Linked DNA regions of Homo sapiens. The protein of the gene in region 1 purifies or fractionates together with the protein of each later gene. This does not show direct contact. Each region holds a gene or a part of one and is shown on either strand. Other genes may lie near its edges. The genes, in order: TFAP4, ANGPTL7, CABIN1 and ATF1.

Region 1 (7,734 bases):
GATCTCAAGTGATCTGTCTGCCTCTGCCTCCCAAAGTGCTGGGATTACAGGCATGAACCACCACGCCTGGCCCAGTCTTTGAATTTTTAAAATTTTATTATTATTATTATTATTATTATTATTTTATGGATGGAGTCTCGCTCTGTCACCAAGGCTGGAGTGCAGTGGTGCGATCTCGGCTCACTGCAACCTCCACCTCCCGGGTTCAAGCGATTCCCCTGCCTTAGCCTCCCAAGTAGCTGTGACTACAGGTGCCCACCACCATGCCTGGCTAATTTTTTTTGTATTTTTAGTAGAGATGGGGTTTCATCATGTTAGCCAGGGTGGTCTCAATCTCCTGACCTTGTGATCTACCTACTTTGGACTCCCAGTTAAAATGTATTATTAAGACAGGGTCTTACACTGTTGCCCAGTCTGAAGGGCCATGGCGTGATCATAGCTCACTGTAGTCTTGAACTCCTGGGCTCAATCAACCCTCCTGCCTCAGCCTCCCAAGTAGCTGGGACTTTAGGCATGCACCACCGTGCCAGTCTAATTTTTTTTTATTTTTTTGTAAAGACAGCATCTGGTTATGTTGTCCAGGCTGGTCTCCAACTCCTGGCCTCAAGGGATCCTCCTGCCTCGGTCTTCCAAAGTGCTGAGATTACAAGTGTGAGACACTGTGCCTGGCCATTATTTGAATTTAAAGCTAAGGATCAGCAACAGTGTCTTGGAGAGCTATACTGAAGCCTGAGGGAAAGGGAAAAATCAGTAATACTGAGATAGTCATTAAAATGTGGAGAGTGTGTTTAGTATGGATTTTTGGCAGTAATTTATTTTATTTTATTTTATTATTTTATTTATGTATTATTTTATTGAGACAGGGTCTTGCTGTGTCACCCAGGCTGGAGTGCAGCGGCACGATCACAGCTCACTGCAGCCTCAACCTCCCTGGGCTCAAGCAATCCTCCCACCTCACCCTCCCGAACAGCTGGGACTACATCACCACGACAAGTTAATTCTTTTATATTTTTTATAGAGATGGTGTCTCACCACGTTGCCCAGGCTGGTCTTGAACTCCTGAGCTAAAGCAATCCACTCACTTGGGCCTCCCGAAGTGCTGGGATTACAGGCATGAGCCACTGTGCCCAGCCAATTTTGATGTTTTAAAATGTTAAATTAAGACGTAATTTGAGGCTGGGCGCGGTGGCTCATGCCTGTAATCCCAGCACTTTGGGAGACCAAGGCTGGTGGATCACTTGAGGTCAGGAGTTCAAGACCAGCCTGGGCAACATGGTGAGATCCTATCTCTACAAAAATTGCAAAAAATACCTGGGCATGGTGGCGCACTCCTGTAGTCCCAGCAACTCAGGAGGCTGAGGGACGAGAATCACTTGAACCCGGGAGGCGGAGGTTGCCGTGAGCCGAGATTGCGCCATTGGACTCCAGCGTGGGTGACAGAGCGAGACTCTGTCTCAAAAAAAAACAACAATAACAACAAAGAAAACCCAACATAATTTATCTTGGGTGTTGAAATTTTTGTCACTCTCTTACATTTTGCGATGTCAACTCTTGCCCCAGGAACCAGATTCTGTGTGGGCCTAGAAATGACTTCCAAGACAAATGAAAAAGCAGGTCTCTGCCATCCCCTGGCCGGACTCCAAATGCCGCTGCTTTGCGGGGGCTTCCTTGATTTATTAGGAGAGGGGATGAGTGCCTACTACCCAGTTCAGTGTGGGCAGCCAGCTCCCGGGTCTGCCTGGGCCACCCACTTGTGCCTAGGGTCTCCCTCTCATCCTTTCTGCCAAGGCTGTCTCCAGGGATATCAGCTTTGCAGATCACTCTCTGCAGTTCACACATGTGCCCAGCCCTGTACCATCCCCCGTGAAGAGAGAAAAGAGTAAAAGCACAGTCCCTCGTCTCTGGGAGACAAAATTGGACCAAGGAGGCCAGGTGCAGTAGCTCATGCCTGTAATCCCAGCACTTTGGGAGGCGGAGGCAGGTGGATTACGAGGTCAGGAGTTCGAGACCAGCCTGGCCAACATAGTGAAACCTCGTCTCTACTAAAAATACACAAAAATTAGCCAGGCCTGGTGGCAGGCGCCTGTAATCTCAGCTACTTGGGAGGCTGAGGCAGGAGAACAGGAGAATCGCTTAAACCTGGGAGGTAGAGGTTCCAGTGAGCCGAGATCGCGCCACTGCACTCCAGCCTGGGCGACAGTGTGAGACTCCGTCTCAAAAAAAAAAAAAAAAATTGAACCAGGGAGACAGCCAGAGAACACTCTGAAGGCCACATATAACTAAGTATGACAGAATGCTTTGCTCTGGAAAATAACAAAAGCAAGTACAAAATAAGGCCCTGATCAGAGGTGAGGTGTGGCAGGTGGGAGGATGAGTGTGATATAAAGAACCAGGGCTTTTTGCAGCCAGCACTCCTGAGTGCATTCTTGTCTGCAGCTGTGAGCTTCTGTCTTCCCATGTGCAAAATGAGAGGATAAGGAGACAGTAATGCACCAGAATAGCTTGCTCACTGCTGGGTGAGGTGGCTGATGCCTGTAATCCTGGCACTTTGGGGGACCGGGGTGGGCAGATCGCCTGAGGTCAGGAGTTTGAGACCAGCCTGGCCAACAGGGCAAAATCCCATCTGTACTAAAAATACAAAAATTAGCCGGGCTTGGTGGTGTGTGCCTGTAACCACAGCTACTTGGGAGGCTGAGGCAGAAGAATCACTTGAACCCAGGAGGCGGAGGTTGCAGTGAGCCGAGATCGTGCCACTGCACTCTAGCCTGGGTGACAAAGCAAGACTCCGTCTTAAAAAACAAAACAAAACAAAACAAAAAAAAGAATAGCTTGCTCACTAAGGGCAGTTAAAAATAGGCTTCCCACCAGGGCCATCCATGGCTCATGCTTGTAATCCCAGCAATTTGGGAGGTAGAGGTAGGATTCCTTGAGTCCCAGGAGTTCAAGACCAGGCTGGGCAACACAGTGAGACTCCTATCTCTATTTGTTGAAAAACAGTAAAAAGGTTTTTTTTTTTTTTTTTTTTTGAGACGGAGTTTCACTCTTGTTGCCCAGGCTGGAGTGCAATGACATGATCTTGGCTCACTGCAACCTCCACCTCCCGGGTTCAAGCGATTCTCCTGCTTCAGCCTCCCGAGTAGCTGAGATTACAGGCATGTGCCACCAGGCCCCCGGCTAATTTTGCATTTTTAGTAGAGACGGGGTTTCTCCATGTTGGTCAGGCTGGTCTCGAACTCCCGACCTCAGGTGATCCACCCGCCTCAGCCTCCCAAAGTGCTGAGATTACAGGCGTGAGCCAACGCGCCCAGCCGAAAGTTTTTTTTTTTTTTTTTTTTTTTTAAGTAGAAACATAGTAAGCCTTCCAGAGACTTTTTTTTGGTCAAGTGGTCTGGGATCTCTCCTTAGAGAAACTGCCTAACAGGTTGCTTCAAGGATTGGAGAGCGTGTAAGCAAAACTGCTCGGCATCCACCGGGTGCTGGCAACATCTAATAACAATATTTCCCAATAATAACAGTAACTATTGTTACTAGTAGGAATAAGTCAAATTAGGAGGCGCGATTTAGGCGGAACCTGGAAGGCGGTGGGCAGGATCCAGGACATTCCAAGGCAGGCGTGGGCTTCCTGAGCCAGGAGCCAACCCTCCAGGAGCCAGGGGAGGGCCTGGGGCCGGAAGGTGCGGCGTGCGAGCGGAGGACGGAAGCTCGCCGCCAGGGTCCCCGTCCCTGCCCCAAGTCGTCACCCCCTCTTGGGGAGCGCATCCTGGCGGAGGGGCAAGTCCCACACGGGCTTTGTTATGAATGGGAAGCTGCAGCCTTCAGCCCGCGGAGGGAACAGTGCGGGTCTGGGGGAATAGCAGGGGACCCGGCAGCAACCAGCAGACCTCCCCGCAGCGCTGGCAGCCTGCGCCCGGGGGCCGCTGCCGTTCAGGCCCGCCTCCACCCTCCCCTCCCTGCCGGGGCCCCCGGCTTCCTAGGGCGGCCCCAGCATCCGAGGCGCCCTTTGCCGTCCCGTCGCCGGGTCCAAGATTCCCAGGATCCGGAGTCCCGGCCGTGCGGCCAGCTAAGCAAGGCGGGAGGGAGGAAGCTGGCCGGCCTCCGAAGTCAGCCCCGAGTTACATGTGGGAAGCGGTGGCTGTGACGCAAGTTTCCAGGGGGCCCTGGGCTCGGCTCGAAGGGAGCACACCGGAGAGGCTCCGCTCCGTGCAGCTGCAATGGTGAAAAAGCAGAAGCCCCAAGCGCGAACCCCAGGCCGCCTTCCTTGCTGCCGCTGCACGCCCGACCCAGCCGCGCCCCCTCCTCCCTGCGGGCCGGCCGAGCGCGCGGACCCTGCTCTGGGCCAGTCGCTGCTGGACTCCGGGCTGCACGGGCTGGGCTCCCTGCGCGGTGGCTGGCCTTTTTTTTTTTTTTTTTGCAACGCTTGCCAACCTGTCAGCTGATGGACCTCATCACCCATAGTGGCGCATGTAGCTCGGCCGCAGCTCGCTCCATTCACGCCGCGCCCCGCAAGCCCGCCCGCGGCCCCCGGCCCCCTGCGCCCCGCGAGAGGCCTGCAGACCCCGGTTGCAGCCGGTCCCCGGGGGCCCGCGCCCCTCTCGCCCCGGCCTCGCGCCGCCCGGGGGGCGCTGCAAATAGTCCTTTGTTTACATGCAATTCCTTACTCCGCGGAAGGAGGCCGGGGGAGTGCTGAGTTTTCACCAGCTGTTTCCCGCCTTGAAACAGACATCTGATCAGCTGCAAACACACACACACACACACACACACACACACACACACACACACACACACATACACACGCCCGGGGAGGCAGGCCGGAGAGACCTCCCTCCCGCCCCTCCCGCCCGCCTCCCTCCCCTCGCCGCCGCCGCCGCCGCCAGCATCTGGGACCGGCCGATTCTGCACCTCCGTCCGGCGCTGCCCTTTGATTCGGATTTCCATCTTGCATTCTCCGGCTGATCGCGGGACCTGGCTCGTGCAGAGGAGGGGGGCCGATCGCTATGGAGTATTTCATGGTGCCCACTCAGAAGGTGCCCTCTTTGCAACATTTCAGGAAAACAGAGAAAGAAGTGATAGGAGGGCTCTGTAGGTGTGTACTCCTCCTCCCCCCACCCCCTTCCTACCACTGCAGCCCCCGGCCAGCCCGCCCGGGCGGGCGCGCGTGTGCGCACGCATGGCCCGCGCCGCCGACCCCGCTAGCCTTTCTTAGCTGCCGGGACGGCTGCAGCCCCACACGCCGGGTCCGCGCCGCCCCGGGACCCTCCTTCCTTGGAGCATGGGGGCCCCAAGCGGCCCCGGCCACTTTTGTCCGCTGCAGGCGGGCGAGTCGCGACGTTTGTAAATTGCAAACAGACCCACGTGGTTCTGCAGCAGTCCCGGCCATGCTTGGTGCTGGTGGCCTTCCCCCCCGCGCTTCCTCTTTCCCCCTCCTGCGGCGGCTTCCTTCCTCTCCTTCCTTCCTCGGGATCTGAGGTCGTCCCCATCCAAGGGGGTCTGGGGGCCCGGGGCGCGCGTGGGGGTGTAGCTAGGGCGGCTACAATGCAGCCATGCCGCGGCTCCCGGCGCGGGGTGGGGGCGGGGAGCCGGGCACTGTGCGTGTTTGCAGAGCGGGGCTGCAGCGGGGTCGGGGGCGTGCTCGCGTGTGGGTGTTGGGGGTGGGCGGACCCCGAGGGGCCCGCGCGGCCGGTAGGGGCGCCGCGGCCCGGGGCACGTTGGCTGCCGCTCGCTCGCCCGCCCGCGCCCGGGCGCTGTTTACTAGCGAGGCCTGGACGTGACTCTGCAGCCCTCTTGGAGTAGGCGGACCTCTGCGCGCGGCCTCGCGGGAGCTGTAGTTCTCCGTGTCCTGCTGGTGCAGCATTGTGGGATTTGTAGGCGCTCCTGGGCCACGCTTTCCCTGCACAAAGCTCGGCCCCCGCGGGCACGATGGGCAAGGCAGGCCAGGTGGGCAGGCCATTTGGGGAAGGGACACCTGAGGCCGCCCCTAGCCTCGCAGGGCAGCTTCCCGCCGCACGTGGGTTTCCTCTGCAAACTTTCCCATCCAACGCCCCTCCCCCCTGCCGTAAACCGAAAGCGTCGGGTCCCCCAGCCGGGTGGGTGGCCCGAGGTCCGCAGGCCTCCCCAGAAGCCACTTTGCAAGCTTTGGTCCTAGGTTGCTCTAAACCCAAAGGGTGATGGACTCAAGGACCACACACAGCCAAACCACCCCGCACACTTCTTAAAATGCACATGCCTGGAACTCTGATCGCTGGGGCCCGGACATCTGCATTTTGAACGACCCCCTGGGCGTGGTGTGGGGGAGGTGGGCGTTCTACGGCGTGCGCAAGTTTGGGACCTGTGGCCCCTTTCCTGCCGCGCTGCTCCAGGAGCGAAATGGCTCCCCAGGGCTGGAGCCACGTGCTCTGCCGCCCGAGGCAGTCTGGGCGGGGATTGAGGGAGGAGGAGCCCGCCGGTGTGGCACAGGCTGGTGGACGCTAGCGCCTGCAGAATCCGGCCTGGAGGGAAGGTTGCTGCACACGTGTAGACACTCCTGCCCAACCCTCTGCCCCGGGGGTCCCCACCTTAAGGCTACTCTGAAGTTCCCAGTCAATACCTAGACTTGGGCCAGTTGATGGGTTTGGCAGCTGGCAGGGATGCCCCGAGGGCTGGCCCTTGCACGAGGCCCACCTGGAGGGCCCAGTAATAATAAGTAAAAAAAATTCTTGAGCTCTTTTTATGTTCTGGGGACTCACTTTGCTAGAATTTTCTCACTGAGTTGTCATAATCTTTCTATGAGTCAAAAGTGTCTTTTGATTCCGCTTAAAGAGGCGGACACAGAGACTGGAGAAGGGACCACTACAGCAGGTGGTGGAACTGGAACTTGAACCCTTGTCCTGGGGTTGCTGCTGCTGCAGGGCTGGGCTGGGCAGCGCGGAGGTGCAGTTGAGCCGCTGTGCCTACTGGAGAAGACATTCTGGGCCTGATCCTGGGCAGGGTTGGGGGGCCCTCTGGCTGCCATGCCTGGGCCTTGGGTGAGTCCTCTCAGGGCCCCCTGAGATTCTGGCTTCAATTTATCCCTGCCCCAAGCGTTCCTTTGGAGCATACCAGCAGTCCCCCAGGGTAGCTGGATCTTGGTAGGCCAAGGACTTGAAGGTGTAGGGCCTTCGTCCAGGGTTGGACATGGCAACGTCCATTGCAAGACAGTTGTCAGCTGTGCATTAGGCATGGAGTTGGGGGTCCCTGGATTTGTTTACCTTCAGTAGGGGTTGCAGGGTGAGGTGGGAAGCCAGTCTGGGATCAAATGTGTTCATTAGGCAGGACCTTCTGGCCAGATGCATTTGCTTCTCAGGGTCATCTCAGGCTGGTGGGCTTTGCTCCATCCCTCAGTGACCAGCAGGGATCTCCCTGTCTTTCTGTCTCCCAGGCCTGCCAGAGGGGATTGTAGGGCACGGTGCTGCACACACAAGCTGCAGGTTTTGGACCTGTCGCCTAATGGTTCTCAGTCTCTGGGAAACAGAGCACCTGTGAGAAAATTAGCTATGGGTATGGCAAGTGCCTGGTAGCTGTAAAAATGACACTCAGTCTTTTTTTTTTTGAGACGGAGTCTCACTCTGTCACCCAGAATGGAGTGCAATCTTGGCTCACTGCAACCTCCGCCTCCTAGATTCAACCGACTTTCCTGCCTCAGCCTCCCAAGTAGCTGGGATTACAGGCATGTGTCAGCATGCCTGGCTAATTTTTTTATTTTTAGTAGAGATGGGGTTT
Region 2 (7,086 bases), on another chromosome or scaffold:
AGTTCAGGGCTGCCCAGGAAGTCATCAGGAGGAAGCTTATACACTCCAGAGATGCGGTAGTTCTTCTGGTAGAGGGAAGAGCAGTCGTAGATGGCATCTACAAGAGAACAAACCACAGGGTGAGCATTTAGACCCAGTGGCTCCATCTGAGTTGAGTGTTTAGAGACTGAGCCTTTATTTCTACCCTGGGATTCTCAGTGGTGTTAATTACCCATCAGTGTCTGCATTTGGGAGAGGTGGATATGGGGAGATCCAGAGGGGGTGTATTTTGGCTTTACTAGCGGTGGAGCAGAGGGGTAGGGAAGCCCTTCACCTGGATAGCATTAGTGGGACGTTCCAACAGGTGGTTTCAGGTTAACTCTGAAATAAATTATTCTGCTATAGCTGGGCCATGAATTCTAGAAATGTTACAGTGTATGAGGGCCACGTAACAGATACTCCTGTCAGATAGATTCAGACTTCTTAGACAGCCGCCACTATAACAAATCAGTCGTGAATATCTCATAGAGTCTGGTTTTGTTGATGTTTCCTGGTTGGTTGTTTTTGTTGTTGTTCAGAGATGGTGGCTACTGCCACCTGAGACCATAATTAAGGGAGATAGATTTTATTATCACATATTTTCCCCTTCCATCCAGCTAGCACCTCAAAACACTCAGAAGAACCTTTGAGGCCTTCCTCCCAGAAGTTTTGTTAAAACAATGAAATGAGAGCATCAGACTGGCCAGTTTTTTTACTCTAGGGCCATGGAGCTGCTACTTTATGCAGGATTTAAGCTCTGTATTCTAAATATCAAAGAGCATAGTGGAAGAGACAGCCTTTTCTGATAGGATTCAGAGACTGCGGCCCTTACTATCCAAGAGAAGCTTCCTGCCTGCTATGTCTCGGGGTGCTTTTCTTGGTGACCACTGCACTGGGACCTTAGAGAGGAGCACCAAGATGGCAGATGGGAGTTGTCTGAGGCACATAGGTTCTCTTGCAGAGCACCTTGGGAAAGGGAGGTAGAGTACGTGTGCCTTCGCCATCACTATTCTTCATTTCGTCTTAGTGGTGAAAGCACCAACTTACTGCTTCCTCTAAGGGACTACCTACTTATAGAATATAAGGGTAACTGAGCACTTGGTCATAGAGAAGAAAAATAAGGAATGATGTCCTGGGCAAGAAGAGCAAGAGACCTGGTGGGAGAGCTGCACTTGACCCCAAGAACCTCCTTGCAGGATGGTGAGAAAGCCTCCTGTTTGGATGAGCAGGAAGTGGCACGGTCAGATTCCTCTGTCTGGCCTGGTCTTCCGCATGTCTGGTTTCATCTCACAGACCAAATCAGGACTCACTTGTCTGGAAAATGGCCTGAGAATACCTTTCTAATCCCAAACTGAGGGCCCGGAAGTCCATGCTTAGAAAGTGATTGATACATGTTGGTTCAGGTAACAGAATTTTCAAGCTTGGTTTCATGTTAAAACTTTTTCTTAATTTGAGCTGAGGTTAACCATTGACTTAGTCAGTAGAAGCTGATCATGTCTTTGTTCTTCATGTAGTTTATAATGGGACCAATGGTTTTTATATCAGCAAGAAATGACATGTCTATAGGATATGCTCCTTACAACTAATATTTTCCTGATAATTTCAGAAAACCAAATTTTTATCTCTAAACCGTAAATTCATGTTGGCCCACCTGAGCTGAGCTAACCAGAAATAAAAGTTATTTTGCAAAAGAAAGATTAAATTTATCTTATTTTTGGCCTATTAAGTCTATATTTCAGCATTGCATTTAAAAAATCCTGTATTCGGAGAAATTCATTTAAGACCATGGAAAAAAATAGACGTATCACAATTGAGGAACCTTAAGGAGCCGCATCCTTCCTGAACACAAAGGGACTCTTCACATGGTTATGTGTCTCTACACTTAACTCTGAGCCAATGAGAAGAGTTACGTTTACAGAGAGAGGACACAAAATTCCATTAATGCTCATTCCTGGTAAATCTTAGGAACACCAGAGAACTGTTTCTGGCAAAACTTTGCTTCCAGAGGAACAGCTGTTACAGTTTGGTGCTTCCTTGGAATTTCTTGAGATATAGCCTGTCAGCTCTTGGTGAGGAAGTAGCAGAGCTACACCAATCAGGAAGACTTGAACCCTGCTTCTAAGACTTGCTGGGTGACTTTGGGCAAACCATGTAGTATCTCAGCACTCCAAGATGGTAGGCTGAAACACTGTGTGGATAAAAGAGACCCGTGAAGGTGTTAGGTAAACTTACATAGCATTAGAAGTCAAAGGAAATACTGCATAAGCCTTTACTAAAGGGAAAGTGTACCCACAAAAGAGGCCCCAGTAGTGGTTCTGATGACCAGGATATGTAGAAGCAGTGCTGTAGATGGGGAGGCACTCCACGCTCCCTCAGGGGACTGGTCTCCTTACCTGCGGAGGTCTGAGTGACCGTCTGTGCTGCCTGCAGCTGCATGATGTCAATTTGGTTGTTCATCTCGGAGTACTTGCTCTCAGCATCTGTGAGCCGCGACTCCATGCGCTTGCTGTTGCTCTCCAGCTCCATCACCTGCATGACCACGCTGACCCAGTCCCTCTCCTGCTTCTTGTTCAGTTCACTCAGCAGGCTGCTAAGGTTGGCAACTTGGGCCTTGAGCTCCTTCACCTCCTCACAGCAGTTGGCCGCTTTGAGCTGTGGCTGTGCTGGTGTCTTGTGCTTAGAGAGCTTCTGCAGCCACGCTGGGTGGCTGACAAAGGCCACGATGAAAATGCAGAGCCAGGTCACAGCTGAGAGAGGCTTTTTCAGCATCTTTTGTGGGTTTGGGTGAGGAAGGCTCTTCCTTCAGGGGAGTCTGGAGATGCCCAGCTGAGGTCTGCAAAGCTGCAGCAGGCTGACTGAACCTTACGCTTTCACTCTGAGGGCCTCGCCACTTTGTTGTTTTCTCTCTTTCCTTGCTCTTTGCTAGCCTTTCTCAAAGCTTGAGTCTCTGACAGGGGAGCTGAATGGGTAGCCTATAGCTTTCCTTCCAAGCCCGAATGCTCCACAAGTCAGCATCTTAAATATTGTTTGCTGCCTGTACCTCCACCCCTACCATGGCTGCACCAGGCTTTAGCCCCTCCCAGCTCATCTGGGAGGGTCAGGTGCCTGTTGGGTGAAGTCAGCGGCAACTTAGGCCAGAGGAGGGGAGGAGGGAGATGGGGCGAGTCTTTCTTTCCTTGCCTGTACAGTCTCTGGGCTAAGACAAGAGGACTGTGAATTTGTGTGTTTCCAGTTTCGCCTATTAGATTATGCCCCTGCCAGCCACTGGCTCAACTCTATCAGCAAGCAGGACAGGGTCAGAAGAATTTCCAAATTCCGTTCAAAAGGTTATATAACCATGGGGTGAGCGTAAGGTAGGCGAAAGAGACGCTACTCACCCAGGGAGGCCTGTTAATGTAATCCATGCTGTTTATATGAGGATCTGGTATATTTTGACATCCTGCTGAATATGCTTTTATCTAGGCTGATTATTCCCATCTCTGATCATTATTTAGTATTTTATAAAATCCTTACTCAACCTGGATCTAACACTATCTCACATTTGAAATCTTCCAACTTAGAAAAGTTCTAGAAATAGAAGAATAGAGTAAATCTCTTAGGAAGCCAAAAAAAGACTTTGTAGCCACAGGGTTTGGACAGTTGTCTTTTTACATGCTTTCTCCTTCAACAAAGAGAGGGCCAGTATTAGCATATAACACTTGATATTTTGCAAGGAGGTGTCAGAAGATTACAACAGAGATGAAAACTCAGCAGTGCCAAGCATGTCTGGGATTGGTCACCCATGCTTCTGTCAGTTTCTAGGCAGGACAGAGAACAGGCCCATCCTTAGCCCGTGGTTCAAAACTTGGAAAATATATTAAAATATAGAGAAAAGAATCCCTGTCACCTAATAAATCCATATCTAGAGTCTCATTTCCCTCTTTCTTTGCTGGTATGGTTTGCAATTTGAAATTATTCCTCCTCTATTTGTATATGACTTTGTATCTAAAAAACATGAATATTGTAATTTTTCATGTACTATATATGAAGGACAATGCTCTTTTGAAAAGAAATGTGAAAAACATGGAGTTTCAGCAAACATCCTTAAAATAAGCTTTTCACTAAGAATCTATACAAAGGTTCCTCTGTCCTTAAAACAGTAACTCTGTCTTTGGAACATACGATTGCTGTTTCCATGTTATGGAGCCACTCAGGCAGTTACTTGTACTGTTGTAGTCAGCGTGGGTCCTTCCCACATAAGCCTGATGCCTGACAGCTCTCCTCCCATGCCATAATCCCCCAGAGCTCTTTTCCAGTCAGGGCTTCTAGCTCCTCAGAAAGTAATTTCTGTTCAGGCAGCTGGAGTTACTGAACAATTTTTTTTTTTCTCAGAATCAAAAAGCAGTGGAGGATCAGGTGGATCAGAGTTTGTTTTCTCACATACCCAGCCTCCTTTGCCTGCTAAAGGGTGAGGATGTTACTGATACCCTTATAGCAACTTGGCATTCTAATCAAAAGATTCTGTTGAGAATTGGCACTGTCTGCCAGTCTGCTCTCTTTTTGCAAATGTCTAGCCCAGCTGGGCACCACAGCCTTAGCTCCATAGCATTCATTTTAGTAACGAGACTCTGGCCCCAAATATTGGCATCCTACAAGGTCTGCTAAAAATAGGGATTTTCAAGTGGATCTCCTGGCCATCAAATGACACTGAGCTTAAACCACATGCCACAGAAGTGCTATGTACCATACAGTCATGTATAGCAGGGGTCCCTAATCCCCAGGCTGCAGACCTGTACTTGTCCATGGCCTGTTAGGAATAGGGCCATACAGCAGGAGGTGAGTGGCAGGTGAGTGAGCATTACCGCCTGAGCTCTGCCTCCTGTCAGATCGGTGGCAGCATTAGATCCTCACAGGAGTGTGAACCCTGTTGTGAACTGCACATGTGAGGGATCTAGGTTGCGTGCTCCTTGTGAGAATCTAAGTACTGCCTGAAGATCTGAGGTGGAACAGTTTTACCTCAAAACCATCCCCCATCTCCCCACCCCCACCCTGGTCCATAGAAAAATTGTCTTCCACGAAACCAGTCCCTAGTGCCAAAAAGATTGGGGACCACTGATGTATAGCATCCCACGTGACCCTGCTGCCTTGGAACTCTCATGTAACAGTGCAGCAGAGAAAGCACAAAAGAACAGTGGAACTTTGTGGAGTTCTAGCCAGCTTTTGTTTATTCTTCCCAGTAGCTCACCCAAACAGGAAAGTGTTATGAATTGATTCTTATATGTGGGCAGAAAATAAATTAATCATTCATATTTGTACCCCATGTAACAGTCCCTTTTAGGAAAGGTAGGAGGAGGTTCGTAAGTTTGTATTGGAAGCATCTAGCCTTTAGCATGAGTGTCTGGTCTTTGACATTTATTTTCTGGAAACTTATTTCTAACATAAGGCAATACTTGAAGACAGAAGACAGAAGCTCTTGAATTGCATAAGCTACCCAAATGTCAATACTCACCCCCCCTCCAGTTTTGAGGAAAAATAGCTAATTAAGGATATTTCTCATGCCAGAAGATTATCTATTTTCTAAAACATCCACAACCTTATGATGTCCTAGATTCTGAATATCTAAATGAAGGAAAAAGAAGTCCTTGTTTTGAGCACAGCTAAGCCAGTAGAGAAAACCATGAAGGATGTGGAGGACTAAAATGGTATTGCCTTCTCTGAAAGAGGCTTTTAAATCCTTCTTCTGCCTTTCAGTGAGCAGAGTGACCTTAAAAATGGGAATTAACTGACAAAATCTGGAAAACCTAGGTTGGATACTGTTTAGATTTTCCTTTTCTCCATTTTGCTGGTGTTGAAAGAGGGCTAGCTTGGTGCTCCTGGAAAAGGTGTTTATGAAAATTAAGCTTTTGTTCTTAATGAAAAAAGTCAGTGAGGTTGTACTCAACCTGGAGGTTCTCAAAAGACTTCACAGTGTTTGGGCCGCACTGCCTTGGGCTGGCACCAAGGTAGTCTGAGGGTCACAGGGCAGGGGAGCACCTAGGGGTGGTCTCTCCTTCTATCCAGAGAGGAGCATCAGATCCCATTTGCTTGAAAATGCCCCGTTGGAGAGACTGCTGCCCACTCTCAGCTTGTGGAATGAATACATCTCAGAAGAAGCTGCCTTGCTGTTAGTTTTAATTGTGTATCTCAAAGGAATATTTCACTTCTTCTGAAGTCTTTGAAAAAACCACAGCCTGCCATACTCTATACAGCCGTTGAATATCTGCCTTTTTTTTTTTTTTTTTTTTTTTGAGACGGAGTCTTGCTCTGTCGTCCAGGCTGGAGTGCAGTGGCACGATCTTGGCTCACTGGAAGCTCTGCCTCCCGGGTTCACGCCAATTCTCCTGCCTCAGCCTCCCAAGTAGCTGGGACTACAGGCACCTGCCACCATGCCCAGCTAATTTTTTGTATTTTTTAGTACAGGCAGGGTTTCACCATGTTAGCCAGGATGGTCTCGATCTCCTGATCTGTTGATCCACCCGCCTCGGCCTCCCAAAGTGCTGGGATTACAGGTGTGAGTCATCATGCCCGGCCACATATCTGCCTTTCTAGCACTCCATCCCATTCCTGTCTCAACTGAAAGTCCAAGTCCATCACAGAAGATATTTCCATCTTTTCCCTGAGCTTTCTAATTTGCCACTTCTATCAAAGAATGTGTCCTGAACCTATTAGAAGTCTTTTCTCTCAGGCCTTCTCTTAGAGTCCTGTTTTGTTTTGTTCTGTTTTGTTTTGTGACAGGGTTTCACTCTGTTCAGGCTAGAGTGCAATGGGGCAACCATGGCTCATTGCAGCCTCAACCTCCCAGTCTCAAGTGATCCATCCACCTCAGCCTCCCGAGTAGCTAGGACTGCAGGTATGCACCACCACACCCAACTATCTTTTTTTCTTTCTTTCTTTCTTTCTTTTCTTTTTTTTTTTTTGTAGTGATGGGGGTCTCACTGTGTTGCCAGGGCTGGTCTCGAACTCCTGGGCTCAAGTGATCCTCCAGCCTCAGCCTCTCAAAGTGCTAGGATTACAGGCATGAGCCACCACACCTGGCCAGAGTCAGTTTTA
Region 3 (7,399 bases), on another chromosome or scaffold:
CTTCCATCTCTGGGGGTCCAGGCCCCTGCCCCAGCCTGCATGACAGGGCCTAGGAAGCTCACCTTGCACAGGTAGACATTGGTGGCAGGCAGCTGGATGGTGACATGCTTCCACGCCAAGTACTCATCCACGCAGGTGCGGGCTTGCAGCTCAGGTGGGTACCAGTGTCCCCGTATCTGGTACTTTCGACTCAGGTATAAAACGATGACCATGCTGTGGGCAGGGGGTGTCAGAGATCTTTTCTCCAGCCTGTCAGGGCCAGGTGGCTTCATTGCTCATACTCAGGGTGATTTGACCAGGTTTTCTCCCCACCTTCACCTTCAGGGGAGGACCTCCCCTATACTGCAACTCCCTCCAGGCAGTATCTCCCCACGACCAAACCACTCTGTTTCTCCATTTCCAACTCTGATCCTCCCTGGGCCCATGTTTCCACCTCCCCTCCCAGTTACCATACCATCCTGCCCTCTGTGCCCAGGCCCCACTCCCTGGCATCAGGGTCCCCACTCAGAGTGCCTGCCGTGTGGGCCCTGCCCAAAAGGTCTCCAAGTTCCCTTCCTAGTGCCCCAGAACACTAGGTGCCCATTTTCTATCCTCAGGTAAGCCCTGGGAGGTGGATACATTATTCCTCCCACTCCGTTTTACAGAGGAGAAACCTGGCACACAAAGTTCTGTGATTTCCCCAAGGGCATGGATTGAGGAAGTGGTGAGCTGGGATTGAATGTGGAGTCTCCCCTGGGTCTGCCCAGCTCCTAGGACTCTGAAAGGATGAGCTGGGGACATTTGGGGAGGAGCCAGCCTCAAGCCTGGGCCTTGCCCGCTGGCTTCAGGTTGTCCAGGTTTATCCGGGTGACCTACGTCCTTTCCCCACCTGGGCAGCTCCAGCTGGCTCAGACTCTAGCCAGGTTCCAGCCTCCAGCTTTAGCCCAAAGGTGCCCCTGGGTCCAGCCTCTGCATCGGAGCTACACAGGCTGAAATGAGGAAGGGGCCTCAGTGATTTGGAAAGATCTCCAAGCCAAGGAAAGATCTCCCCTCTCGCCTCTGCCTCCCCCTACAACTCTGAGCCCCAGAACCCAGGCAGATCCTGGCTCTGACCCTGGGTGGGCACCAGGTCACCATTACCTCTTTGCTAGTAGGAAGTCGCCATCTCTGAGGGCAGGCACCTTCCCCAGGGGGTTCACCTTCAGGAACTCAGGCTTCAGGTGCTCCCTTGGTGGGCAGAAAGGAGAGAAGGCTCAGTGTAGGGCCTGGTCCTTGGCACCCACTCCATGGGGCCCAGCCCAGCCACCTGGCTCACCCCAAGCCAACTCCACCATCCACAGCTCAAAAGGGATGTCATTCTGTCTTGCAAAAGTGGATAGTGTGTCAGGTCCAGGAAGAGCTCAAGCCCCATTGCTGCTCCTCTCACCTGCCCTCCCCAGAATTCTGGACCTCCAGGAGTTGCTCAGCCCTTCTCCACTAGTTCTGAGCTGTTTCCTCTCCATAGTCTGCTGTAGTGGGCCAGAGCACAGGGCAGATTTGTCTTCAGGGACTTTCTCTGGGCATTCCTGGGCAGAGAACTTCATCTTCTCTGTTAACTCTTGCTGATAATTCTCTGTAGCTAGGCACCTTGTAAAACCCATGTCCCAGAATGCCAAACCTGGAAATGCAATGTCAGCGCCGAAACTGCATTGAAACTGAATGAATGAGGTCCCCACCCTCTTATCTAAATATCCTATCAGTCTGTTGAATGTCAAAGTATGTAGGGGTGGTGTGGGGGAGCCTATAGGGAGTCTCCATTTCTGTAGCTTTCCACATGTTCCATGCAGAATTTTCCTCTAATGACCCTTGGACACCGTGGTGGTCACTGTTTCCCTGCATAAACCTTTGATGATCCTTATCTTTAGCGTACCAGTGAAACACCAAATTCAGATTTTCAGTCTGTGCAGTCTATGTAGTTAATAAAATCAATTTCTAATGGAATATGCCTGTGCCTGGTGTGTTTGTACCTAACCACTGCTAAGGACTTTCATTGATAGCTAGACCTTGGAGTTCCTTCCCCTGGACCCCTGACCCAAGTATTTTGCACTCATTCCTCTGCCAGTGTGTTTCATGGTGTCCTGCTTCCCAGAGTGCCTCAGGGAATGCTTGCATTGGATATGAATGAATCGTTGCGGTCACCATGGATGGGATTCAGGCCTAACTCTCACCAAGACCATAAGGCCACAGTCTTTGATATAGATTCCCCATGTTAAATCTGCCATCCTCAGTGTAGTGAGAGTGATATTGAGAGAGAAAAGTTAGGTAATTAAGGTGGGTCCTTGGTAAAACTCCTTTAAACAGAGGAACAGCCTGAAAAATCAGGCTTCAGGCACAGATAAGGAAACTTGCACAAACCTCTGGCTCACTCAGATAAAGGAACAATGCCCAACACAGAAACACCTTTGATCTTTGTGCCTAAGGCATGCCCACAGCTACTTTGATAAGGGAACAAGACCCAGCATAGAAATGCCTTTGTCCTTTGTATAACCAGTGGGCTTCCAGGAAATAGTCTCTTCTCCTTTTGTGGACATGTACACGGTGGGCTACAGTGGGTTCCAGTGGGCACTTTCCTTTCTTGGACGTGCTTTAGAATGTGAGCCTCTGATTGGTCCTGGGCCAGGCTATCACTTCAGCTCCTGATTGGTCCCTCAAGGTCCAGGGGCCAAGCTGAGTAGTGCTTTCTCCAAGACCAGTCAGTACATTCCTTCCTTTCCCAGTCCATAAAACCCCCTGACCCAGCCTCATAATGGGCAACCTGCTTGGGCCCCCCGCCAGCTGCAATGAGCTTTCTTCATTTGCTTATTAAACTTTTGCTTCAACCTTACCCTTTGTGTCCACACTCCCTAATTTTCTTGGTCGTGAGACAAAGAATTCTGGGTGATACCCCACAATGAGAGACTGGTACATTGTGGTGCACGGGCAAGACTGCAACAATATGTTTTCTGCTTGCTTGTTTGGACTGGCCTCTTCCTAACTCTCCAGAGTGCTCTCTCCCCACTGTGGCCCTGAGCTTTGCCTCACGGTAACACTGTGCTGCATGACACTCCAGCATGATCTGCATGTTTCTCACCTCCGGACCTTCCCCACACAACTTTCTTGCTGCTTGGACCACCCTTCCCACCTATTTTCAACTGTTTCTCTCCAGCGCATCTTTCATGATAAGGCTTGAGTGGAAGCTGTATCCGAGGCTGAAGGTTATCCATGCAGCTTTGAAACCATCTGTTTATGCTTCTGTTTACCCCCCAAATACTGTTTACCCCAATACTCAAAGTCAAGGTTGGTGACTCAACAATTTTCAGAACTTCTAGCTTATCAGTATAGCTTTATTGTACTGAACTGAGTTTTTCACCATGCTGTTACTGTCTTTGAGGTTAAAAAGCCCCCAACATTCACTCCTATTTGAATCATCTGTGCAAGACTCAAGCAGCTATGAATTCAACCACAGTGTAAAGTTCTTCCCTACAATGCTTTATTGTTATTCTAGCTCCCAAGAGAGTACCATCTTTCAGCCCAAGACCCTTGACAGAACCCCTTCAACTCTGTCGCCTTTTTTCATCTCTGGAATTCTGACACCACCCATGACCCCTCTTCTTGTTCATTTACTAGGTTTTGTTCCTTTTTTTCCTTTTGTTTCAATATCCTATTGTATCTGTTCCTTTTGGGCTTCACATCCTTTTTGGAAAGAGAGGCACAGGTAATATAATGAATGAGGATGCTCCTCCTCCCTGGTTCCCTCTAAGTCAAGTTTCTCCAACGCGCTGGTCTGCTTGGCTTTGAATGCGGCTCAACACAAATTCATAAACTTTCTTACAACATTTTGAGATTTTTTGGTGATTTTTATTTTTATTATTTATTTATTTATTAACTTATCAGCTATCCTTAGTGTTAGTGTATTTTATGTGTGGCCCAAAACAATTCTTCCAACGTGGCCCAGGGAAACCAAAAGATTGGACACCCCGCTCTAAGTGTTCCCCAAGTTTCCACTGTTTTCAGAGCACATGTCCCAGGTAATAACACACAGCCCATCATTTAGTGACTGCTCAGGGTGCAAGCTGTGGAGAAGAGAGTCCGACTACGAGCTGGTGCTCTAAGCCTCCAGCACGCTAGGACTGACGACGGGGATCCGGAAACAACAAGCTCCACTCCCGCAACACACACACACACACACACACACACACACACACACACACACACACGCACACGCACACGCGCACGCGCGCACACACGCGCACACACGCGCGCACGCGCGCGCGCGCCGCCCAAGGGTAGCCGTCTGCAGGGCCCCAGCTAAGCAGCCCGCGGAGAGCGAGCGGCGCGTGCGCCCCCGCTGATTGGCTGGCACAACCGGCACCGGAGCCAATGGGAGCACGCCTTGTTGTCAGGCGCGCAGCCGGACGGCGCGGTGGTCGGGACAGACTGGCCGTTGCTGTGGAGACGCCTGGTGAGTTCCTGGAAGGCTGGTTTGAAGGCGGTGCCGGGGTGGGGGTGAGGCTCAGCAGAGCCCGGGGCACAGGCCGGAGGGGCTGCAGGCGCGAGGCTGGGTTACGTGAGGAAGCTGGGGGTTTCGCGGGCAGCTTTAGAGCCCCAGTCAGGGAAACCGAGGCCGGGCTTCCTGGCTGCCTCGCGAGCCTCTTCATGGCTCTCGCCGCCGCCCTGAGGTGCCTAGAATGGGTTCCGGCCTCCGGGGAGGTTCCCAGTAACCGCAGGAGCCACCATTGATTTGGCGTCTGCTGGGTGCAAAGCCCAGCGCGCTAACCCTTTACTCGCGACCTTTCGCTTCACCTTCACAGCAGCCCTGCGAGGTGAGTGTTGTTATTGGTGCCATTTACAGGGGTGGAAACTGAGGCCGCGGGTAGGTGAAATGATTTGCTCCAAGTCACCCAGTGGGTGAGCGCGACTCCAGACTGAAAATTTTGACCGTTCTGCTTCACTGCCTCCCCGCAAGAGGCGGGCCCTGGCCAGATGGAACTCACCTGGCATTCCCAAGGTATCTGCACAAGTGGCTTTGGGAGTCACTTAACTCTTCAGGACCTGGGTTATTACAGGTTATAAGTGTGGGACCGTCGGATTCCATGTGGCTAAGATTCTTTCTATGTGATTATTGTGGTTAGAAATAGAATATGCTTAGAACAGTCTCGTTCAGCGGTCGGCAAACTTTTGTTGTAAATATATCAGTGTTTACATTGTTATATTGTAAGTATAATGAGTATAATAGTATTCATAATAGTAGTTTAGGCTTGGGGGGTCCATACTCTGTCTACTTAACTGTAGCGATGTAGTGTGGATACAGCCAAAGACAATACATAACAGACTAGCTGCGTCGCAATAAAATTTTAATTATAGGGACCGAAGTTTTAATTTTATATATTGTTAATATAATTTTCACGTGTCATGATTTTTTTTCCCAAATATGAAAAAATGTAAAAACCATTCTTTGCTCGTGGGCTGTACAAAAAGGGTGGGCTGGTTAGCTTGCAGAACCCTCATCTAGTACAAAGCCTCATACATGAGGGGAAACAGACTGAGAGACTGACATCTATGTCAAGTCAGTCACACAGCCAGGGCACTGCCACCACTGAGCTTAAGACATAGGCTTCCCACCTTCCAGGCCAGGAAACATCCCCAGTTATCACTCTGGATCAGGGTGCTGAGGTCTGAAGGTGTGCTACTCTTTATCGTGTTCTGAGGCCATGGAAACTATATTCTAAGGGGTTTGGAAACTTATTAGCTTAGACTAATAAGCCTGGTGAATGTGCTGCTATCTGAGGAAATGCAGCTGCTGGGCTGGGAGTCAGAAATGAATAGATATTTTTCTTTTTCATGATTATTCAATAGCTTTTGTGTGTGTGTGTGTGACGGAGCCTTGGTCTGTCGCCCAGGCTGGAGTGCAGTGGCATGATCTCGGCTCACTGCAATCTCCGCCTCCCGGGTTCAAGCAGTTCTCCTGTCTCGGCCTCCCGAGTAGCTGGGACTACAGACACCCGCCACCATGCTTGGCTAATTTTTGTATTTTTAGTAGAGACGGGGTTTCACCGTATTGGTCAGGCTGCTCTCAAACTCCTGACCTCAGGTGATCCACCCGCCTCGGCCTCTGAAAGTGTTGGGATTACAGGCGTCAGACACCGCGCCCGGCCTCAATAGCTTTTTTTTTTTTAAAAGCTCCTTTTAGTGAGTTTCTTGGATTTATGGTGAACAATACATAAATGGTTACCATCCTCACATTGCTTACAGATGATAAATATATAATCAAAATGGTTATTTCTTTTTAAGCTTTTTTTTTTTTTTTTTTGAGATGGAGTCTCGCCTGTGGCCCAGGCTGGAGTGCAGTGGTGCGATCTCGCCTCACTGCAAGCTCCGCCGCCTGGGTTCACGCCATTCTCCTGCCTCAGCCTCCCTAGTAGCTGGGACTACAGGCGCCTCTCACCATACCCTGCTAGTTTTTTGTATTTTTTAGTAGAGACGGAGTTTCACCGTGTTAGCCAGGATGGTCTTGATCTCCTGACCTCATGATCCGCCCGCCTCGGCCTCCAAAAGTGCTGGGATTATAGGCGTGAGCCACCATGCCCGGCCTCTTTTTAAGCTTTTTAAACTAATTTTAGATTTAGAGAAAAATTGCAACAATACAAAACGCTCTGTTATGTCCTTCACCCTGCTTTCCCTAATGTTAACATCTTACATAATCATACAATTATCAAGAACAGAAATCTAGTGTTGGTACAGTATTATTAACTACATTACAGATGTGATATGAATGTTACCATTTTTTAAATTAAGGTTGTGTTTTCATTCCAGGACCCTATCCAAGATCCCATGTTGCATTTAGTTATTTCTCCTTGGTCCATAACACTTCCTTAGTCTTTTCTTGTTTTCCTTGGCTTTGATGCTTTTAAAGAGTAGTGATCAGTTATTTTGTCTAACGTCTCTCAATTTAAAGGTTTGTCCAGTGTTTTCTAATGATTGGGGTGAGATTATGCATTGTTGGCCAGAACACAAAGACACATTATCTTTGTGTCTTTCTCAGTGCATCACATGGAGTCCAAGATATTGGAATGTCTTATTACTGGTGATATTTACCTTGATCTATTGGTTTACTTGGTGTCTACCAGGTTTCTACACCATAAAATTACTATCCCTTTCTAATTAATAAGTCTCTTGGGAGAGATACATTGAGAGGACACAAATTCTCGTTCTCCACAAATTTGCTCCCTGACTTTAGCATCCATCTGCAGATCTTTGTGGTGTTTGCCTAAAGGTAATTATTTCTCTCTTTCCTTCTACATTATTAAGTCAAGTTCTACTGAAAGGAGAACTACCCTCTCTCTCTTTTATTTATTTATTTGATTATTTATGTGTCAGTGTAGGCCATGGATATGTATTATAT
Region 4 (7,797 bases), on another chromosome or scaffold:
TCCTAGTGTTCAAGCTTGCAGCATCATTGCCCTGGGGGCCAAGCCGTATCATAAAGGAAAATTATGTTTTTTCCATTCTGGCCAGAGCAAAATACGTGTGATAAAACAAAGACATTAGCCACTCCGCTTAGCACCCAATATCAAACTAGCAAGGCTTAAATTTGCCCCCAGATGGGCCTGTCATCTTTAATTCAACCTCCGACTTGGAGTTTCAACATGTGGCCTCTAGGTAAGATGGTTGCCCTGAGTAATAGAAAAAATAAGAAACGCAAAGTAGATAAGAAAAGTATTGCCTGTGGCAGGGTGGGGAAGCTGAAGAGCTTAGGGAGGCCAGAGAAAAGACCCACTCATTGCAGCCGACAATGAAAACCTCAGGCAGCCGCTTGTACGCAGCAAAGGGACCTTTTCCAGCAGTCCCATCAGCTCTCAAGATTCCCCTTTTATGGGGGGAGGGGGGAGGGATAGCATTGGGAGATATACCTAATGCTAGATGACGAGTTAGTGGGTGAAGTGCACCAGCATGGCACATGTATACATATGTAACTAACCTGCAAAATGTGCACATGTACCCTAAAACTTAAATTAAAAAAAAAAAAGACTCCCCTTTTAGAGAGGAAAAAGCTCCCCATGTCCCACGATCCTGTTCATGCCTAACTCTGTCACCCACAGCCATCAGCAAAGAGCGCAAGGCAGATTAATCCAAAGAGAACAGCAGTTAATATCCCATAGTGCCAAACCTGTTCTTAGCTGAGAGGGAGTTACCTGAGAGGGACTCTAACTCCCTATATCTTAGAAGGGCCTCCAACCCAAGGTCAGTCAAGCTTAAGCGTCCTTGCCTTTTATTAAGAGGGGCCTCGAACCCACTGTCTTAGGAGAGACTCCTAAACATAAATACTGGGTTTCCGCAGTATAGTCGCTTCTGTGGCCACCACAAATACGTTACAGGACCCCAACACTTACCCAAAGGTAGCCGTTGGGTCAGGGTTTCTGCACTATAGTCCCTTTGTGGTCGCCAGAAATATGTTACAGGACAGGCGTCCTGATCCAGGCCCCAACTGAGGGTTCTTGGATCTCGCGCAAGAAATAATTCAGGGCAAGTCCACAGTGCGATGTAAAAGTAACATTATGAAGAAAGTAAAGGAATAAAAAGAACGGCTACTCCATAGACAGAGCAGCCCCAAGGGCTGCTGGTTACCCCTTTTTACTGTTATTTCTCAATGATAGGCTAAACAAGGGGTGGATTAATCACGCCTCCCCTTTTTAGACCATATAGGGTAACTTCCTGACATTGCCATGGGATTTGTAAATGGCGCTGATGGGAGTGTAGCAGTGAGGATGACCAGGGGTCACTCTTGTGGCCATTTCAGTTTTGGCCGGCTTCTTTACTGCAACCTGTTTTATCAGCAAGGTCTTCATGACCTGTATTTTGTGCTGACTTGTCTCATCCTGTGACTTAGAATGCCTTAACTGTCTGGGAATGCAGCCCAGTAGGTTTCAGCCTCATTTTACCCAGCTCCTGTTTAAGATGGAGTTGTTCTAGTTCACACGCCTCTGACACCATCTCTATTTAAAAACAAACAAACAAACAAACAAAACAAAACAAAAACTGGCAAAGATAGCACACCCTATATTTAAAGTCAGAAGGGACTGCCACCTGCTGGTGATCGGGTAGGAATGGACAGATAGCTCACAGACCAAACCTAACCCTAAAAGATAACGGCAAGTATTAAAGAGCTAATACATTCGACTTTAGGGCAACAGTATTGATTCTAATTAAGACACGGAGATAACTGCATATGATAAACTCCAAGAAAAAAGAGCATTTTAGAAGAACGCATTTCTGTTAACAAAAACCTCAGGTTAAAATGCATTCTGAGACATAAATGCCTACGAACTCATCACAGGTGAGGCCAGTTTGACAAAGATGCCTGCCAGATCCACGCCGAGCTTCTGAACCCTAAAGGTTCTCAAAGACTACCAGTTGCCCAATCTCTTCAAAACACTAGCGCCACAACCAGACATTATTTCACATTGCAATCATTTCAAAGCGATTCAGCCGCCAGCTGCACGGCGTCGATCAAAGTGAGAAATGCCAGGCTTCGTTTTTTGACATACAAGATCAAAGAGAAAGTCACCCTCGGCTGGGTCGCCCATCCCAAAGGGTACAGACGCCCTTGTGTCATTCCTAGCCAGGGGTAAAGCCGCCTACTGTCCCCACTCTGTCTCCGCTGCCAGGCGCATCTCTCCAGGACTGTCTGGGGCGTGCGCAATGCCCGTGCGTCGGTTGCCCGCTAGACTGCAAGCTCCAGGAGGGTAAGGGGCGCGCCTCTTCCCTCAGGGTCGCCAGCGCCGACGCGCTTCGAGGACCCTGTCGCGGGGTTAACCAGACCCGGGCTCCGCTCGGCGGACACCGCGCCGAGGCCATATCCGCGCCGCCCTCCGCCCGGCTCCGGGCCCAACCTCGAGACCTCCCACGGAGAGCTAGCGCCTGCGACTGCAAAGGGCGGCTTCTGAGGCGAAAGCCACCCCGCGGCGGGCGGTTTCGGGCTTTACTTTTATTTGGGGGCGAGGGAAAGGAGGAGACGCACGACTGGAAGGGCGCAGCGCAGCTCTGCACCGAGGCGCGGAGGCCGGAAGCGCGGGCGGCCCCTCCCCCTGCCGCTGCGCCCCTCCCCCACCGCCACCACCGCGCGCGACCCCCACCAGGCGCGCGACCCGCGCTGCGTCCCCGCCGGCGCCACGTTCCCGCGTCCTTCCCCGCCCGGGCCACGGGGCACGTCCCTCCCCGCCCCCCACTTACCTGTGGCTGCCGCCTCGCCGCTCTCCGGGGCGGGAACTTCCACTCCCCCCTCCCAGGTAGATCCGAATTCACTACCCACTTCCCCACCCCCTCACGCAGCGGGGGACAAGCCTCCTTCTCGGGGGTCAGGCGGGGCGGGGAGAATCAGTGTCACTTAACAGCCAACTGTCCTAAGCTACCGTTTCCTCGGCAGTCAGGGCCGCTACTGGCGGCATGATCTACACAAGCCTGGGGGCGGGGGCGGGGGCGGGGGAGGGGAGGGGGGCAAAACTGAGCACTAGTGTGCGTTTGGGGTAGGCTATGGCGCTGCCTCCGCGCGGGCCGCCGTCCTGCGTCACCGCGCTGCCCACGTGACGCGCCGCCATCTTGTACGCGGTCCTGACTTGTGGCTAGGGGTTCCTCGGAACGCGTTCCTCAGGCTGCAGCGGGAGAGGGACGGTGCCTGCGGTTCCGTTTCTCCTTAGGAGCTGTACCCCACCCGCCCTACGTCCGCTTCCGGAGGCCATGAGCAGCTGGGTGCTCGCGGGGGGCGTTTTCATCGATTAGTGGCGGCGCTGTCAACTCACCTGCCAATTGACCTTGACCGACGCCGGCCCTGTCCTCTTGGAAGGAGAAATGAAGAGTGAAGGCTTTGACTTCCTCAGCTTTTTTTTTTTTTTTTTTTTTTTAGATGGAGTCTCTTTTTTTTTTCCGAGATTGAGACGGGGGTCTGTGGCCCAGGCTGTAGTGCAGTGGTTCGATCTCGACTCACTGCAGCCTCCAACCCCGGGATTCAAGCGATTCTCCAACCTCAGCCTATGGGGCAGCTGGGACCACAGGCGCGCGCTACCACGCTCGGCTTGAAGAGATGAGGACTCTATGTTGCTCAGGCTGGTCTTGAACTCCTGGGCTCAAGTGATCCTCCGCCTCGGCCTCTCAAAGTTCTGGGATTACAGGCGTGAGCCACCGTGCCCGGCCTTACTCAGATTTTTCTTAATCCCATAAAGTAACAATGAGTTGTGTCCTTTAACCCATGTGGAAGGATTTTCTACAGAAACGGATTTACAATGAGACATAACGATGTGGCCGGGCGCGGTGGCTCATGCCTGTAATCCCAGCACTTTGGGAGGCCCAGGAGGGCGGATCACCTGAGATCGGGAGTTCGAAACCAGCCTGACCAACATGGAGAAACCCCGTCTCTACTAAAAAATACAAAAGTAGCCGGGTGTGGTGGCGAATGCCTGTAATCCAAGCTACTTGGGAGGCTGAGGCAGGAGAATCGCTTGAACCCGGGAGGCGGAGGTTGCGGTGAGCCGAGATCGCACCGTTGCACTCCAGCCTGGGCAACAAGAGCAAAACTGTCTCAAAAAAAAAGAAAAAAGAAACGTAACAGAGTGTTAATAAAATGTTATGCCGTCATTTTAATGCATTACAAAAACTTCAGAATATTTTTGGGTCTACCTCTCTGGAAGGGAGTTATGCCTTATTCTTAATTTTTAAAATTTCCTTGTAAAATGCTGTTTTATGGCTTTAATGATAGTAAACGACAAAAGATAAACTTTTTTAGTATGCTCTTGACAAAAGTTCCGAAAGTTTTCTGAAATTTTACTAGTTTGAGATCCCCAATTTAGGAAACCGATTTAGTGGAGAGAGCTTTGCCTATTTTTGGCCCTTTGGGTCGGAGAATGTGATATAAAGCCGAAGATTTACTCTGCCAGACAGTCTTAAGAGGTCACTAACGTTTAGCTATTGACATTCAGCAAAAATTGTGGATTACCTATTAAATGCTAGACCAGGGGACAACTGTTATTAAGTCAGTGTTTCAGCATTACTGAAAGAAAAGTGGCCTATAAAGGTAAGGGAGAGGAAGAGTTTCTCAGATACCAGCCTTCGATGATTAACAAAGTCCAGCCTCAATCATTCTGGAATCCAGAATATTGATGGCTGGAAGGCTGGTTGTACAAGTTTATTGTTCTTTGGTGTTTGGTTTTTTCTTCCGTGGACCACAGAATGCTTAACAAAAGTTGATCAGTAAAAAGCGGGGGAGGGGCTAGGCGTCGTGGTTCATGACTGTAATTCCAGCACTTTGGGAGGTGGGGGAGGGCAGATCACCTGAGGTCAGGAGTTCGAGACCAGCCTGGCCAACATGGTGAAACCCCGTCTCTACTAAAAATACAAAAATTAGCCAGGTGTGGTGGCACACACCTGTAATCCCAGCCTCTCAGGAGGCTGAAGCATGAGAATCGCTTGAACCTGGGAGGCAGATGTTGCAGTGAGCCAAGATCACGCCACTGCACTCCAGCCTGAGCCACAGAGGGAGACTGTCTCCAAAGAAAAAAAATAAAAACCTGGAAATTTTATTGAAAAATGAAACCTTCAAAATGTGCCTTGACTACTTCTTTAGCTCCTCTTCCTTAGTGCCTTAGGTCTAAATCAAATGTTACGCTCGACCAGTCCTGGTGGCATGCGCCTGTAATCCCATCTACTGGGGAGGCTGAGGCAGGAGGATCATTTGAGCTCGGGAGTTTGAGGATACAGTGAGCTGTGATCATGCCACTGCACTCAAGCCTACATGACAGATGAGACACTGTCTCTAATTTTTTTTTTTTTTTTGAGATGGAGTCTGCCTCTGTCGCCCAGGCTGGAGTGCACTGGTGCAATCTTGGCTCGTTGCAACCTCCACCTCCCGGATTTCAGTGATTCTCCTGCCTCAGCCTCCAAGTAGCTGAGAGATTACAGGTGTGTGCCATCACAGCTGGCTAATTTTTGTAGTTTTTTAAGTAGGGACGGGGTTTCACCATGTTAGCCAGTCTTGGTCTCGAACTGCTGACCTCAAATGATCCGCCTGCTCAGCCTCACAAAGTGCTGGGATTACGAGCATGAGCCACGGCACCTAGCCTCTAAAATAATTTTTTTTAAAATTGTTTAAAAAACAACTCAGGCCGGGCACGGTGGCTTACGCATGTAATCCCAGCACTTTGGAGGGCGCGGTGGGTGGATCACCTGAGGTCAGGAGTTCGAGACCAGCCTGGCAAATATGACGAAACTCCGTCTCTACTGAAAATACAAAAGTTAGCCAGACGTGATGGCGTGAGCCTACAGTCCCAGCTACTCGGGAGGCTGAGACAGGAGAATCGCTTGAACCCAGGAGGCGGAATTTGTGGTGAGCCGAGATCGTGCCACTGCACTCCAGGCTGGGCAACAGTGAGACTCCATCTCAAAAAAAAAAAACAAAAACAAAAAACCACGACTCAGTTGACAGAGGAAAAGAAGAAAAAAAGTTATGCTTGTTCAACACTGCCCCTCAAAAATACTTCTGCTTTTCTTGTCTCTTTCTCATTGAAGTATCATAAACTGTGCCTACCAGTCTTCTGAACTGTGATAACTAGATGAAAAAAAAAAAGAGGTCTTGGTTCTGATGCATGCAGTTTATCTGAATAGTAAGTTTCATAAATCAGATGGACAGATCTTTAATATTAGAAGCAAGGAAAGTGAAACAAAGAAACTTAGAGCCATGGCCGGGCAGGGTGGCTCACGTCCTCCGTAATCCCAGCACTTTGGGAGGCCAAGGTGGGTGGATCACTTGAGGTCAGGAATTCAAGACCAGTATGGCAAAACCCTGCCTCTACCAAAAATACAAAAAATTAGCTGAGCGTGGTGGAGCACACCTGTGGTCCCAGCTACTTGGGAGGCTGCGGCAGGAGAATCCCTTGAACCCAGGAGGTGAAGGTTGCAGTAAGTCGAGATCGTGCCACTGCACTCTAGACTGGGTGACAGAGCAAGACTCCACCTCAAAAAAAAAAAAAGAAAAAGAAAAAGAAACTTAGAGCCGAAAGTAATTTTTTTTTTTTTTTTGAGACAGAGTCTTGCTCTGTCGCCCAGGCTGGAGTGCAGTGGGGGTATCTTGGCTCACTGCAACCTCTGCCTCCTGGGTTCAAGGGATTCTCCTGCCTCAGCCTCCTGAGTAGCTGGGATTACAGGCGCCTACCACTACGTCTGGCTAATTTTTGTATTTTTAGTAGAGATGGGGTTTCACCATGTTAGGCTGGTCTCGAACTCCTGACCTAAGGTGATCCGCCCGCCTCAGCCTCCCAAAGTGCTGGGATTACAGGTGTGAGCCACCGTGTCTGGCCAAAAGTAATTGTTTTTTTTAAAATAAACTGGGCAAGCCTGTGGTAGCACCACTTTGGCTCTTCTGGCACACTTTTTTGTTGTTAGAAAAGAGAGATGTGGCCAGGCATTGGCTCACACCTGTAATCCCAGCACCTTGGGAGGCCGAGGCGGGTGGATACCTGAGGTCAGGAGTTTGAGACTAGCCTGGACAACATGGTGAAACTCCGTCTCTACTGAAAATACAAAAATTAGCCAGGCGTGGTAGTGTGCACCTGTAATCCCAGCTACTCAGGAGGCTGAGGCAGGAGAATCGCTTGAACCTGGGAGGCAGAGGTTGCAGTGAGCTGAGATTGTGCCACTGCATTCCAGCCTGGGTGATGGTGCAAGACTCTGTCTCAAAAAAAAAAGAAAAAAAATTAACCAGGTGTGGTGGCATGCACCTGTAATCCCAGCTACTCGGGAGGTTGAGGCAGGAGAATCACTTGAACTCAGGAGGCAGAGGTTGCAGTGAGCTGAGATCACTCCATGGCACTCCAGCTTGGGCAACAGAAGGAGACTCCATCCCATTAAAAAAAAATTTTAAAAAAAGAGGTTATAATGAAATGGATTTAATAACACTGCCTATCCCATAGGGTTTTGTAGACTGAATTACTTTGATACACGTAAAGTTAGAGCTGTGCCTAGTATATAGTAAGCACTAAATAAATGTTGGATTTTTTTTTAGACGGTCTTGCTGTGTCGCCCAGGCTGGAGTGCAGTGGTGCACGATCTCAGCTTACTGCAGCCTTGACCTCCTAGGCTCAAGCCATCCTCCCACCTTAGCCTCCCAGGTACCTGGGACTATAGATGTGCAGCACCACGCCCAGCTAATTTTTTTTTTCTTTTTCTTTTTTTTTTTTTTTGAG

The links.
Region 2: the proteins of TFAP4 (region 1) and ANGPTL7 purify together in Homo sapiens (co-immunoprecipitation; 3 studies listed by BioGRID and IntAct, with this or other methods). This does not show direct contact.
Region 3: the proteins of TFAP4 (region 1) and CABIN1 purify together in Homo sapiens (affinity purification with mass spectrometry; 3 studies listed by BioGRID and IntAct, with this or other methods). This does not show direct contact.
Region 4: the proteins of TFAP4 (region 1) and ATF1 purify together in Homo sapiens (affinity purification with mass spectrometry; 2 studies listed by BioGRID and IntAct, with this or other methods). This does not show direct contact.

Annotation. Positions count from the first base shown.
Region 1 is NC_000016.10:4,270,007-4,277,740, reverse strand, and holds the start of TFAP4 (transcription factor AP-4), read left to right. Parts: upstream 1-4,717; 5' UTR 4,718-4,994; coding exon 4,995-5,083; intron 5,084-7,734.
Region 2 is NC_000001.11:11,185,281-11,192,366, reverse strand, and holds the start of ANGPTL7 (angiopoietin-related protein 7 precursor), read right to left. Parts: upstream 3,013-7,086; 5' UTR 2,788-3,012; coding exon 2,412-2,787; intron 98-2,411; coding exon 1-97. UniProt on the Homo sapiens protein: Has a role in the formation and organization of the extracellular matrix.
Region 3 is NC_000022.11:24,006,909-24,014,307, forward strand, and holds the start of CABIN1 (calcineurin-binding protein cabin-1), read left to right. Parts: upstream 1-4,395; 5' UTR 4,396-4,459; intron 4,460-4,461; exon of another isoform or gene 4,462-4,820; intron 4,821-4,849; exon of another isoform or gene 4,850-5,005; intron 5,006-7,399. UniProt on the Homo sapiens protein: May be required for replication-independent chromatin assembly. May serve as a negative regulator of T-cell receptor (TCR) signaling via inhibition of calcineurin. Inhibition of activated calcineurin is dependent on both PKC and calcium signals.
Region 4 is NC_000012.12:50,759,311-50,767,107, reverse strand, and holds the start of ATF1 (cyclic AMP-dependent transcription factor ATF-1), read right to left. Parts: upstream 3,008-7,797; 5' UTR 2,801-3,007; intron 2,782-2,800; exon of another isoform or gene 2,704-2,781; intron 2,639-2,703; exon of another isoform or gene 2,554-2,638; intron 2,530-2,553; exon of another isoform or gene 2,184-2,529; coding exon of another isoform or gene 2,116-2,183; intron 1,058-2,115; exon of another isoform or gene 961-1,057; intron 420-960; exon of another isoform or gene 1-419.